2 separate regions of the Homo sapiens genome follow, and region 2 is linked to region 1. A link means that fine-mapping ties the variant in region 1 to the expression of a gene that starts in the linked region. Tissue or cell type: whole blood. Region 1 holds a variant in brackets; the other region holds the start of a gene. All regions are shown on one strand. Distances are between the middles of the regions.

Region 1 (6,428 bases):
GGGGTGGGGGGACCACAGCAAAACTCTTCTGGCAAACAACAGAGGCCACAAATCCAGGGTTCAGTTAACATTACTGGACCAAGCACCCAGTTTGTTTTTCTAAGTGGTTGGGGAATTCTGAAGAGGATCAGTTTAAAAACAGTATAGACCCTGCTGCATTTTCTCCACTCAACTCTACTGTCCCGTCTCGCGATCATGCTACACTTGCAGCCCCGTCCACTCTAGATCGCTGCCCGGCCTCCCCACGCTGTCAGATGCTGTCTCTGTGAGAAGCCCCCTCCTCACTGCTTTCCCACACAATGGAGCCATGCCCCGTGTGAGATGAGCCACGCGGGCACAGGAGTGAGGCTGGCAAAGCGCACACCAGCCTCCCCCCAGGTCTGCCCCTGCCCGGGCATCTGGTGCCCCCAGCACGTGAGGCGCCCCGGCTGCTGTGCTGGAAAGCATGCCTGTCACTTGGGCCCAATTTCCTCACCTGTCTTGTGGGCTGGGCTTGCTATGAGGCTTGGGACACGGGAGAGCACGGCTGTCGAAAAGATATGCCCTCTGCCTCCCATGTCAGCCACGCGCTGGCTGTGCCTCATGGGGCAAGTTGTGTCGCCTCTCTGAGCCTGTCCCTCGCCTGTAAAATGCAGATAACCCACCATGTAAGGCTGTGAGGGGAATTAGAGGAGTTCGTACATTCAAGGTACTTAGACCAACACCTGGCACAAATTATAAAGTGTCAGCCGTCAGCATCCCGATCACCGTAATAGCTCGTACCCTTCGCACTGATTGGTTTAGTCATGAGTGCGTGAGGCAGTTCTAGCCAAGACATTAGAGGAGGTCGGCTGAAGCCAGAGCTTCGGAAAGGGCTCCCTTTATCTTAAAAAGAGACACACATAGGATCGCTTAACGCCAGGAGTTCAAAACCAGCCTAGGAAGCAAGCGAGACCCAGTCTCTACAAAAAATTTTACAAACTAGCTGGGTATGTTGTCATGCACCTGTACTCTCCGCTACAAGGGAGGCTGAGGTGGGAGGATCACTTGAGTCCAGGATTTGGAGGCTGCAGTGATCTACGATTATGCCACAGTACTCCAGACCAGAAGACAGAGCAAGACCTCATCTTCAACAACAACAACAAAAAGAGCAGGTGACACATAAAAGAGGCAGCCATTTGTCCCCAAACACCTTACACTGGTGTGATGCCTGGAGCTGTGGTGGCCATCTTGCAACCATGAGGCCTGAAGTCCTGAATGGCCAGAGAGGAGAATATACACCAGAAAAAAAAAAACGGGGGGGTTTGTTACCATGGAAGGAGTGAGGAAGAGCTGCTAGGGAGGCAGCCAACACTCCCGGAGCACATGCAGCCCTTCTGTACCCGACCAGCCTGATGGTGTCTTCCATGAATGCAGTCCCCATCCCTCACTCCAGGAAACTGGGGAAGACAATTCAAGTGGCCTTGATCGTAGACAGTTCCCTTGGAAATAAAAGTACCAAGACAAAGCAGAGAAGTCGGAGAGCTTCAGGTTTGCAGTTTTATAGAAAAGATTTAAGAGGGTTAAAATATTCGTTAAAATGGCCCTCATTCTCCCGGGCCAAGGCTGTGTGGTCACACCTGAGAGCCTCAGCACTGCCCAGTACCCTCTCTCTCCTTGCGGAATTTTTAGTCCAACTGATCACAGAACCCACACCCTAAAAAATACAACAGCATTCTAATGGCATTCTAACGGCATTCTGATGGCATGCTAATGGCATTCTGTTTTGCTTTTTAGCCACCAACAACTCAACCTATTTTCAGAGCAGGTGAAAAACAATTCTGAATCCAGTTTGGAAAGATTCCGGCAACCAACACTTTATGTCAAAGCACAAGGAATGATGACAAAGACTCTGGCGATGGAAGATCAAAAACAGGCTTGTTTTATTTATACACAGAACAACTTATGTACAGCACTCAGGTATGGACTATGTACATGACAATACAAGAGGCGTTTGTTTCCACGGTGGTCACTATATAAATTAAGATTATAAATACGAGGGGGTAAGCCCCACCTGAGGGCACAGAACCTTTTCTCCAAGACTCTTCAGGGATCCTTCCTGCCTCTCTCTGCACAGCAGACCATGAGGCCCGTCTGGCAACACCACAAGGGGACCTGGGCCGGGGCAGCAGAGCAGCCCCCAGACAGCGAGGACACCCCAGTGCGGGACGCCAGCCCAGCACCAAAGGGCAGGTTCCTAAACACTCATGTTCATTCCTTCCTCACATTCTAACTTGTTAGAATTAGAAAAATGGTTTTTATGTAAACAGTGTTGTTCTAATCACTGACAACATATTAATTTTAAACACTTTTGATCCAAACCCAACTCCTTGCCAGGAGTAGGACACTGAGGACTTGGGGTGGCCCTGATGTCCTTGAAGCCACAGTCAGCTGTTTATCCTCCTCATGTCCCCTCCCCACCCAAGTTCCAGCTTGCCTGGGGCTTGTTCTGGGACCCTAAGAACCCCAGGATGCCCACA[T/C]CGCCAGGCCAGCAGGGCCAATGGTCATGCAGGGACTGCGGGACAGGTTCCCATCATCTCCTGTGTTAGCCCATTCCACCTGGGAAACCAAGCGACTGCCGTGGCTGGCTTATTTCTCCCTCTGCCAACCCCCATCTACAATGTTCTGGGGAAAACAATGAGAGGTGGAAAAGGTAACATACAACCACCTTCCACCCACATCACTTCCAGTGAGGCAGCTAAGTCCACCAACAGAGCGTGGGAGAGTCTTTCATCCAAAAATCCCAACACGTCGCATGCAGCGACAGGAGGCTGTGCTGGGGAAACCCAAGGCCTGGCTCAGCCTCCATACTCTAAGGGCCTCGGGCCAGAACGACCACGAGAGGGGAGCACCCAAAGGCACGCAGAGGGGCCCACCTGGGTGCACTGCAGAGGGGACAGAGGGGCTGTGAGTGGGAGGTGGGCCAGTGCTGTTCACTGCCGCCTGCTCAGGACCAGGGGCTGCTGCAGACCCAGCCCGGTCTATGCCCACCCCCGCAGGTGCAGCCCAGCTTCTGCACATCAGATGGAGTGACGCTGACTAAAGGACCTGGACAGCGCCGGCAGATACTCCCAACACTGTCCTTCTCTTTGGGAGCCAAAGAGAAGCCACGGCAGATACTCCCAACACTGTCCTTCTCTTTGGGAGCCAAAGAGAAGCCACGGCCAGGCAGCCAGGCCAGAGCCATTTCCTCCTCACACCAGGGCAGGGGTTACAGAAACCTCTTCCCAAGACATTTACAAGCACCTCTGAGCCATGACTATCAACGGGAAAAAAGGGCAAAGTCAGTGCCCTGGAGGACCAGGGGCATCCTTCACCTGGGCACTGTCCCTACGGGGCACAGCCCTCTCCCCAGGCGAGCTCCCTGCCCTCTGGCACCATCATCTACTAGTTCAGAGCCAGGACAGAGGCAGGGCAGGGGCAGCGCGGACCACCAAATCAGAGTCCCTGCCAGCACCTCCAGCGACATCACGCCCAGCAGCAGGCGACAAGAAGCCACTGCAGGGGCAGACACTCAGGAGAGCCTCCGGCCTCCAGGCCACCGGACGGGCTGAAGAGGTCAAACCACCCCTGGCCCACCAGGGCCACGCTCCCTGGGAACCACAGAATGGGCAGAAAAAGTTTCCCAGAGCCAGGAAGCATTTCCCACACAGAAACACTCATGTGGACACACATCCTCTGTCTGCAGGGATGCAGCTGGCAAGCTGTCTCACTCACACCCCAAGCTGAACTCGCCTAGAGCGTCCGGAGACAGAAGGGCAGGCGTCCCCAGCCCACAGTGGGGGGAGGGAGGAGCGGGAGGAGAGAGGATGGAGGAGGGAGGAGCACAGGCCCTGTGACACCCAGGGAGGGGCTCCCCGCCTGGGAAACAGCACCCGCTGCCTTGGCTCACGCAGGAGGAATTTTTTTTTCTCTTCACGTCAAATTACAATCAACAAGACTGGAAACATCCATGCTACTTTCAAACCAGGAAAGAGCACGATTTTTGTTCAACAAAAGCTGCATCAACAAACAGGGGCCCTTGCAGGCTGCTGTGCTGGGCCCCAGCCACGTTTCTGAGAACTGGCTGGGGGCCAGGAGGCGGAGCCACACGGTGCGGCCACAGAAGGACACACGGAGAGGAGCCCCCGGGACAATCCAAGCACGAGGCCAGGCAAGCAGTGCCCAGGAGGCCAGACGCCGCTGGATTCCCTGGCCCACAGCACAGGCGGGCGAGAGCTGAGTGGCCGTGACACATGTGCCCCAGGTGACTCTGAGCTGGAGAAAGTGTTGTTTCAAAGGTAGCTGTGTTGTTATGTTCGAGACCCCAGAGCTCTGGTGGACGGTGTCACGGAGGCTTTCTGTAGCTGACAGAGGAAGTAGCACCATGAGAAGGGGGCGGGCTGCAGCATCTGCCCAGGGCCTCAGTGGCAGGAGGCGCAGAGGCCACAGGCTGAGAGGGCGGAGGCTAGGCCTCGGCGGCGGGGATGTGGAGGCCACAGGCTGAGAGGACAGAGGCTAGGCCTCGACGGCGGGGGCGCTGCGGCTCAGCTCCTTGATGCCACACAGGATCCTCTTCATGTGGCCCACCTTGGTCACGCCCAGGTCCTGCAACAGAGAAGACACCGCCATGGATGCCGAGAAGACAGCCAGGGCCAGAGGGCTCCACAGCAGGCCTGCCACAACGGCCCTTCCCATTCGGCTTGTGAACACAAATGAGAGCCAAAATGACAAAAACGGTAAAACAAGATGGAAACAGCTTAAAAGTAACAACCATACAGATGCCTGGCCCATTGTTCCTGCATTCTAGTCACTACCATCAGCAAGGACAAATCCAAGACAAAGACAAAACACAGGCCTAAAAGCAAGTGGATGACAAGTGACCTCATGAGAGCCACTGTCCAGGACACCCACAGTGGCCTTTTGCCCTCTCGGGACTCAGCCAGTGATTCAACACCCAGGGGTTGGCCCGTTGAGGCCAACCTGGGCAGGGGCATGGGCCTGCAAGATGTGGCGTGAGGCCTGGCATAGACCGAGGCCTGGCACCCAACCACCCCTCCCAATGCTCCCTGCAGACGAGTGGCAGCACCCGCCCAGGAGCAGCATGGGGACAGTCGTGTGTGACTGTGCTTCAGGGTCTGTGTCCCCTCATAGTGTTTTTAACACGAAGACAGTCCTTGTCTGAGTAGCCTAAGATAACCAAGGCTCTGCCCCCCATTATGTCTGCTCCTGGCTTCCTCTGGTTGTGGTGGGTGGAGCCATCACTGCCTAGATGAGGGCCACAGCCGCCCCCACCTGAGGTATACACGAAAGCCTGAGAAGAATCGTGATGCTGGGACATGGCCAGGTCGGGGGAGAGGATGGAAGAGAAGGGAGCTGCGTGCAAGCCCAAGTGCAGGTTCCAGGGAGACGCCTATGGAAGTACCTTGAGGTCCCTCCGCTCCAGGTGCAGGAGCTCAGAGCCCCGGATGTCGTGCCGTGTGAAGATGTCCTTATACTCACAGAGACTGAGGTGCTCCAGCCAGGCAGCAACCTCCTCTGTCCCCCAGAGGTGAACTGTCGGAGATGGAAAAGCACGAGTGCAGTGAGTGCCCAGAGCCCAGTGCAAGGTAGGCAGCAGCTGGCACCCAGCACCCGAGAGCCCAGTGCCAGGACAGGAGACGTCCCAACAGCCAGCACCCGAGACAGCCCAGCAGCAGCCAGCGCCTGAGATAGCCCAGCAGCCGGCACCCGAGATAGCCCAGCAGCCAGTGCCTGAGATAGCCCAGCAGCTGGCACCTGAGCCATCTCTGGCAGCCGGTATCCATCACCCAGCCAACAGCACCACCCACCAGCAGTGCAGAAAGAGGCACAGAGCCACCCGCTCAAGGGGCGATGGCTGCAGCAGAGCTGGCATCTGTTCCTGCCAGGTGGGCCGCCAGCCTCTGGTCATTTCCCCGTGTCCCAGGAGGGATTTACCACCACCAAATATGAGGGAAATGTCCTCATGATTGTGGCCAAAGCCAGCTTTTCCTCCAGCTTCTAGAAGGGTTAAATTTCACTTCTGGACCATAGCAGGAAAGGAAACGAGCAGAGATTTCAATTCACATAGTCAGAGCCACCATTATTAACAGAAACCCCATTTCTGGACAAACATGCAAAGAAGAAAAACCCACAGGAGCTGCCCTGACTGGCGGCAAACACCAGTCCCAATATCCAGGCTTGGAGGCCTCTCCAGCCCCTGACAGCACTGGATATGGCCTGGGTATTCAGGGCTGATCCTTCAGACAGAGAGTTTAGCTCCAATTTACTGACCCAAAGGAACAATGTCCTTCAGGACCATATTCGATTGATTTCATCACCCACAATCTCTGGTGGCCTGGGCTTCCCAGCACAGGAACCTCGACCAATGCATCAATTTATCAGGAACCAGCAGCCCAGGAGGGAGCAGG
Region 2 (5,688 bases), 96 kb before region 1:
ACACCCCTTTCCATAGAAAACCGTACGTAATGAGCCTTAAAGTTCCTTATGACCCCTTGATCTAAGGGCTGAATTAGACATGTTGTGTTTAGGGGCAAGGAGGCCACTTTGGTGCTCTCATTGCAGAATCTATGGGGTTCTGGGTGGCCAGGGACATTGTCCAATATCAAAAGCAATTTAAAAGGAAGTCCCTTACTGGCAAGGTACTTCCTGACTTCAGGGACAGAGCATTGGTTTTCATGGAACCAAACCAGAAAAAGTGTTTTCGTTGTACAGGGCTTTTTATCATAAAACAAAAAGACTTGCAGCTGGTGTTTATCTTTTCCCTTAAAGGCTCAGGGATTAGCAGCTTTATAGATGGCACATTTGAAAGCACTTTGGTAAATAGGTGTGTAGTGAGAAATACAGTATGAAAAGAATGTTGGGACCATCAGCGAACTAAGAATCAAAATAAAGAATTTCCACAGTGGATGTTGAGAAATCGTGGAAGCTTCTTTAGCAGAGAGGTTTGAGCTCAAAGTGCACCTTAGATGGATAGTGCATCTTATAGTGACGTGCAGGAAGGGGTGTGTAAAACGGGAGTCCACTGAAAAGGCTATCATCCTAATGCAGGTGAGATTTCATGGGGATCTGATAGGAGGAGAGGAAGCTATGGAATGAAAGGATTGTCCAGACAATACTTTGACATGCCATTAGTTTGATTCACAGACGAAAGACAAAGATATAAGATTATATAAATATAATCTTATATCTTTATAAATGTGACCACTCATTCATTCATATTTATAAGATTATATAACTATAATCTTATATAAGGTTATATAACTATAATCTTATATAAGGTTATATAACTATAATCTTATATAAGGTTATATAACTATAATCTTATATAAGGTTATATAACTATAATCTTATATAAGGTTATATAACTATAATCTTATATAAGGTTATATAACTATAATCTTATATAAGGTTATATAACTATAATCTTATATAAGGTTATATAACTATAATCTTATATAAGGTTATATAACTATAATCTTATATAAGGTTATATAACTATAATCTTATATAAGGTTATATAACTATAATCTTATATAAGGTTATATAACTATAATCTTATATAAGGTTATATAACTATAATCTTATATAAGGTTATATAACTATAATCTTATATAAGGTTATATAACTATAATCTTATATAAGGTTATATAACTATAATCTTATATAAGGTTATATAACTATAATCTTATATAAGGTTATATAACTATAATCTTATATAAGGTTATATAACTATAATCTTATATAAGGTTATATAACTATAATCTTATATAAGGTTATATAACTATAATCTTATATAAGGTTATATAACTATAATCTTATATAAGGTTATATAACTATAATCTTATATAAGGTTATATAACTATAATCTTATATAAGGTTATATAACTATAATCTTATATAAGGTTATATAACTATAATCTTATATAAGGTTATATAACTAATCTTATATAAGGTTATATAACTATAATCTTATATAAGGTTATATAACTATAATCTTATATAAGGTTATATAACTATAATCTTATATAAGGTTATATAGCTATAATCTTATATAAGGTTATATAGCTATAATCTTATATAAGGTTATATAGCTATAATCTTATATAAGGTTATATAGCTATAATCTTATATAAGGTTATATAGCTATAATCTTATATAAGGTTATATAGCTATAATCTTATATAAGGTTATATAGCTATAATCTTATATAAGGTTATATAGCTATAATCTTATATAAGGTTATATAGCTATAATCTTATATAAGGTTATATAGCTATAATCTTATATAAGGTTATATAGCTATAATCTTATATAAGGTTATATAGCTATAATCTTATATAAGGTTATATAGCTATAATCTTATATAAGGTTATATAGCTATAATCTTATATAAGGTTATATAGCTATAATATAGCTATACTCTTATATAAGATCATATAGCTATACTCTTATATAAGATCATATAGCTATACTCTTATATAAGATCATATAGCTATAATCTTATATAAGATCATATAGCTATAATCTTATATAAGATCATATAGCTATAATCTTATATAAGATCATATAGCTATAATCTTATATAAGATCATATAGCTATAATCTTATATAAGATCATATAGCTATAATCTTATATAAGGATCATATAGCTATAATCTTATATAAGATCATATAGCTATAATCTTATATAAGATCATATAGCTATAATCTTATATAAGATCATATAGCTATAATCTTATAAATGTGAACGAATGAGTGGTCCGCTGGCCGAGTGGACCCGCGAACTCACCAGCGGACTTGTAAGCGAGCTCACCTTGCCCGCTCCCGCTCCCGCTCCAGTTCCCAAACTCTTGGAGCAGAAGAGTTACATTTCCCATAAGGCCCCGTGCGAGGGGCCGGCGCTCCAGCGGGGCATCCTGGGAAGCATAGTCCACGATCCATAAATCACTTTCTGGAGACCCGCCCTCGCCAACATGGCGGCGCCCAGTTGGGGCGGGTTCGTTCGCTTCGCGTTTTGGCCAGGGCGGGGGTCTGGGCTTTAGGCAGTAAGTGCGGCTGGCGCCCGGGGATCCTGGGAGGGACGTGGGAAGCGTAGGGACAGTGTTGGTGGCCCAGTCTGAGGAGGGCGAGGCGAGAGGCTGCCCAGGCCTGCCTGAGGACGCGGCGCTCTCCTGGAGTCGGGGCAGTGGTTTCGGGCCACGGGGACCTCTGCCTTTTTGCGCCCCTGGGCCTGTGGTGGCTTGGAGGGCCTCGGCCGGCCGTAGGAGTTGGGAATTCAGGAATGCAGACAACGAGCTCGAGGCTAGACTCTCGAGTTGTGTTTTTTTAGTTTTCTTCTGAGGAAAAGAAAAATAATTGCATTTCAGCGCTTCCTGTCATTTGGTACCTATGCTAGGCGCTTTACGTTTCTCATCTCCAAGTGACCCTCCGCCACACTCGATGTGAAACCTTGGGGAAGTCACCTAGGCCCCCAGGGCTAACGATGGGATTAGTGGATACATACTGGAAGGCCTTTAGGCTTGATAATTTTAGTGGCAGTCTTCCCCGCCCTCCGCTCCCCTTCCCCCCTCCCTCCCCAGTGAACTGACTTCCGGCCCAACAGCTTCGGGACTGTACTAAAGTGCTCTAAAAAAAGTTAACTTGATCTGTTTAATTTAAATGTCATAATCTGGTATATAGTACTGAAGGGTGTGACAAGCAGAGATTTTAGAGAGTTGATTCTCAGAATTTAGGGTTGGCTTTGCCGTCCCAGCAGTGGATTAGTTGTGGCAACAGGTTTTCTTTTTTAAAAAAATTAGTGATGTGAACGTGCCTTTTTAAAAACAGCTGTTACTTATTGTGGGCCAAACCCTGTACACTAACTGCCCTTCTTTCGTTATGTCATTGGATAGTTTAAATGACCCGAAGAGACAGATGGTATCCTATTTTACACATAAGAAAACAGATTAACATATCCAGGGTCACACAGGTAGTTAGGGTCCTGATAGGGATGAAAAAAATCTAGATCTTGCTGCCTCCAAAACCCAACTACTGTACATAGAAACAGTAGTCCTGTGTTCTAAGAAACAACAGAATCGACTCCCAAGTGTAAGGTAGGGGGATTTGGGGAAAATTTATTTTAAAAATAAAAGCATTTATATGTCACTTTTTTTAAGGGTAGTATTTAGTTTCACAATGTTTGGGGACCTGTTTGAAGAGGAGTATTCCACTGTGTCTAATAATCAGTATGGAAAAGGGAAGAAATTAAAGACTAAAGCTTTGGAGCCACCTGCTCCTAGAGAATTCACCAATTTAAGCGGAATCAGAAATCAGGGTGGAACCTGTTACCTCAATTCCCTTCTTCAGACTCTTCATTTCACACCTGAATTCAGAGGTATGCTATGTTACGTACATTTAACTAGCAATATGTACCATCTTCTTTACATGTAATTAATTATGCAAAATCACAAATAGACCAATTATCTTAAAGATATATTCTACAGTATGTGTTTATTGTTGCACATATAAGATATAAATTGGTAATTCCCTCTGCAGAGAAATGTGAAGCTTAATCTTAAATATATCCTGGGTGATGACAATAATGTTTAGTAAAAAAATAAAGCAATATATTTCTTTTTTAATTCCTGTAATTTAAAGTACAACGTAAAGACAATTGTCATAAGTATCAGTCTTCATTATTGTTACACTGTTTGAGTTTTAAGATTTCTCTAGAATAACAAACACTTAAGCCAGAGTTATCCAACCAATTATATCTACCTTTTGGAGTGGGGAAGGGTGTCATATTATTTATATGGGTGCACAGTTGTTCATACGCATTTCTGAAATCTGGAAAGCTCACACCCTCATCTGATCTCACCTGAGCTTGTTTGGCTTCAGAACCAGACCTGGTGTGAGGCTATTTACAGTTTTTAGTTATCTCATGTGGGTGAATGTTCATACATTCATTACAGGAATATTAATCTGCTTGATTAATGGAAGCTGGCCCAGACCCTGCTGGGAATGTAACATTTTATATATATATAAAAAACACTTTTTTCATATTATCTTTATAAACTCTGGAAATTCTGAATTCCAAAGACCCAGAGATTTTAGGTAAGGGATTGTGTGCAAGAAACAGACCCACCACCCAAATTAGCTAAATTTAAAAGGGGGGTTATTGTAAGAATATAGGGGATCTCAGAAATCAACTGCAGGAAGCCAGCCTGACCTTACTGGACCCTTGATTTCTTGCCCCTGTTTCTCTCTATATATTTCTCCCATACCCCATCTCTGCAAACCAGCTTCCTCCACAAGGGTCCTAGGAGCTGTGTTCCCGTGAGCTCAGTGTGAACATTACTTTGCCTTCACCTGGCCCTGACTGGGGTCCCCAGCACTACATGGCTTTGTAGCTCAGCTCTCCACAGTGTCTCCATATTAGGAGGACAGACAGCCTGACTCATCCTATCTGGTTTGCCATGTTCCTCTTCCCTACTGCCACCACATTTATCAAATCTTTGTGGTTCTTCTGTTGCTTCTAAGCTTAGAAAGACTTGCTGCCTCCAGAGATTTAGTAAATATTTACCGCTGTTACCTTCCTAGGAGCAATTTAATGGGTTGGATTGCATGTGGGATTTAAGTGGTACCTCTTAGCCTTGACTCGATCCCCTCCATAAAAATATCTCCCTGATGCAATCAGTAATTCCACCAGTAAAAATTGCCAGCACTAATAAGTACATTTCTAATAGGGATAACACTTTTCCAGGTTTTAATATAGTTGAAGTTAAAGGACAACTCGAAGTAGAAACGTAGCCTCAAAGGGACTGAGGAAGATGGTGAAGTGTAGGGCGGGTCATGGAGCGTACCATTAGGCAAGAGTAGTACTGAGAGTCCCAGGCCAACTTCCTCTCCAGCAGAGGGGATTGCTGGCCAAGCATATGATTTGACATCTTAGTGCACAATGTGCACTGCTTGTATAGCTTAGCCTGAATCCTGATGGTGACTGACAGGGAGGTATAATTTGGAAAGAATAAGGACTGTCAGAGAACTGGCGGGGGAAATTTTGGAATAGTATTTTAAATAATAGGGCTACATTGGGTTCCATTGTACTCCATTACAATGTAGCTGAGAGTACTGGGAGATTATTAT

The links. PIP is the estimated chance that this variant, and not a neighbour inherited with it, causes the effect.
Region 2: it holds the start of USP40, and the variant in region 1 is fine-mapped to the expression of USP40 in whole blood (TOPMed, PIP 0.96).

What each region holds. Positions count from the first base shown.
Region 1 is chr2:233,467,548-233,473,975 of GRCh38, reverse strand. DGKD (diacylglycerol kinase delta) reads right to left here. Exons shown (of 30, transcript NM_152879.3): 29 at 5,423-5,553; 30 at 1,878-4,605. The coding sequence ends at 4,516. Among named protein-coding and RNA genes, the nearest start is that of USP40, 96 kb to the left of the region's middle. RefSeq lists an enhancer at 1-119 and a silencer at 5,842-6,057. The variant T/C (reference allele first, on the strand shown) is at 2,499.
Region 2 is chr2:233,563,605-233,569,292 of GRCh38, reverse strand. USP40 (ubiquitin specific peptidase 40) reads left to right here and starts at 2,511. Exons shown (of 32, transcript NM_001365479.2): 1 at 2,511-2,609; 2 at 3,720-3,937. The coding sequence starts at 3,739.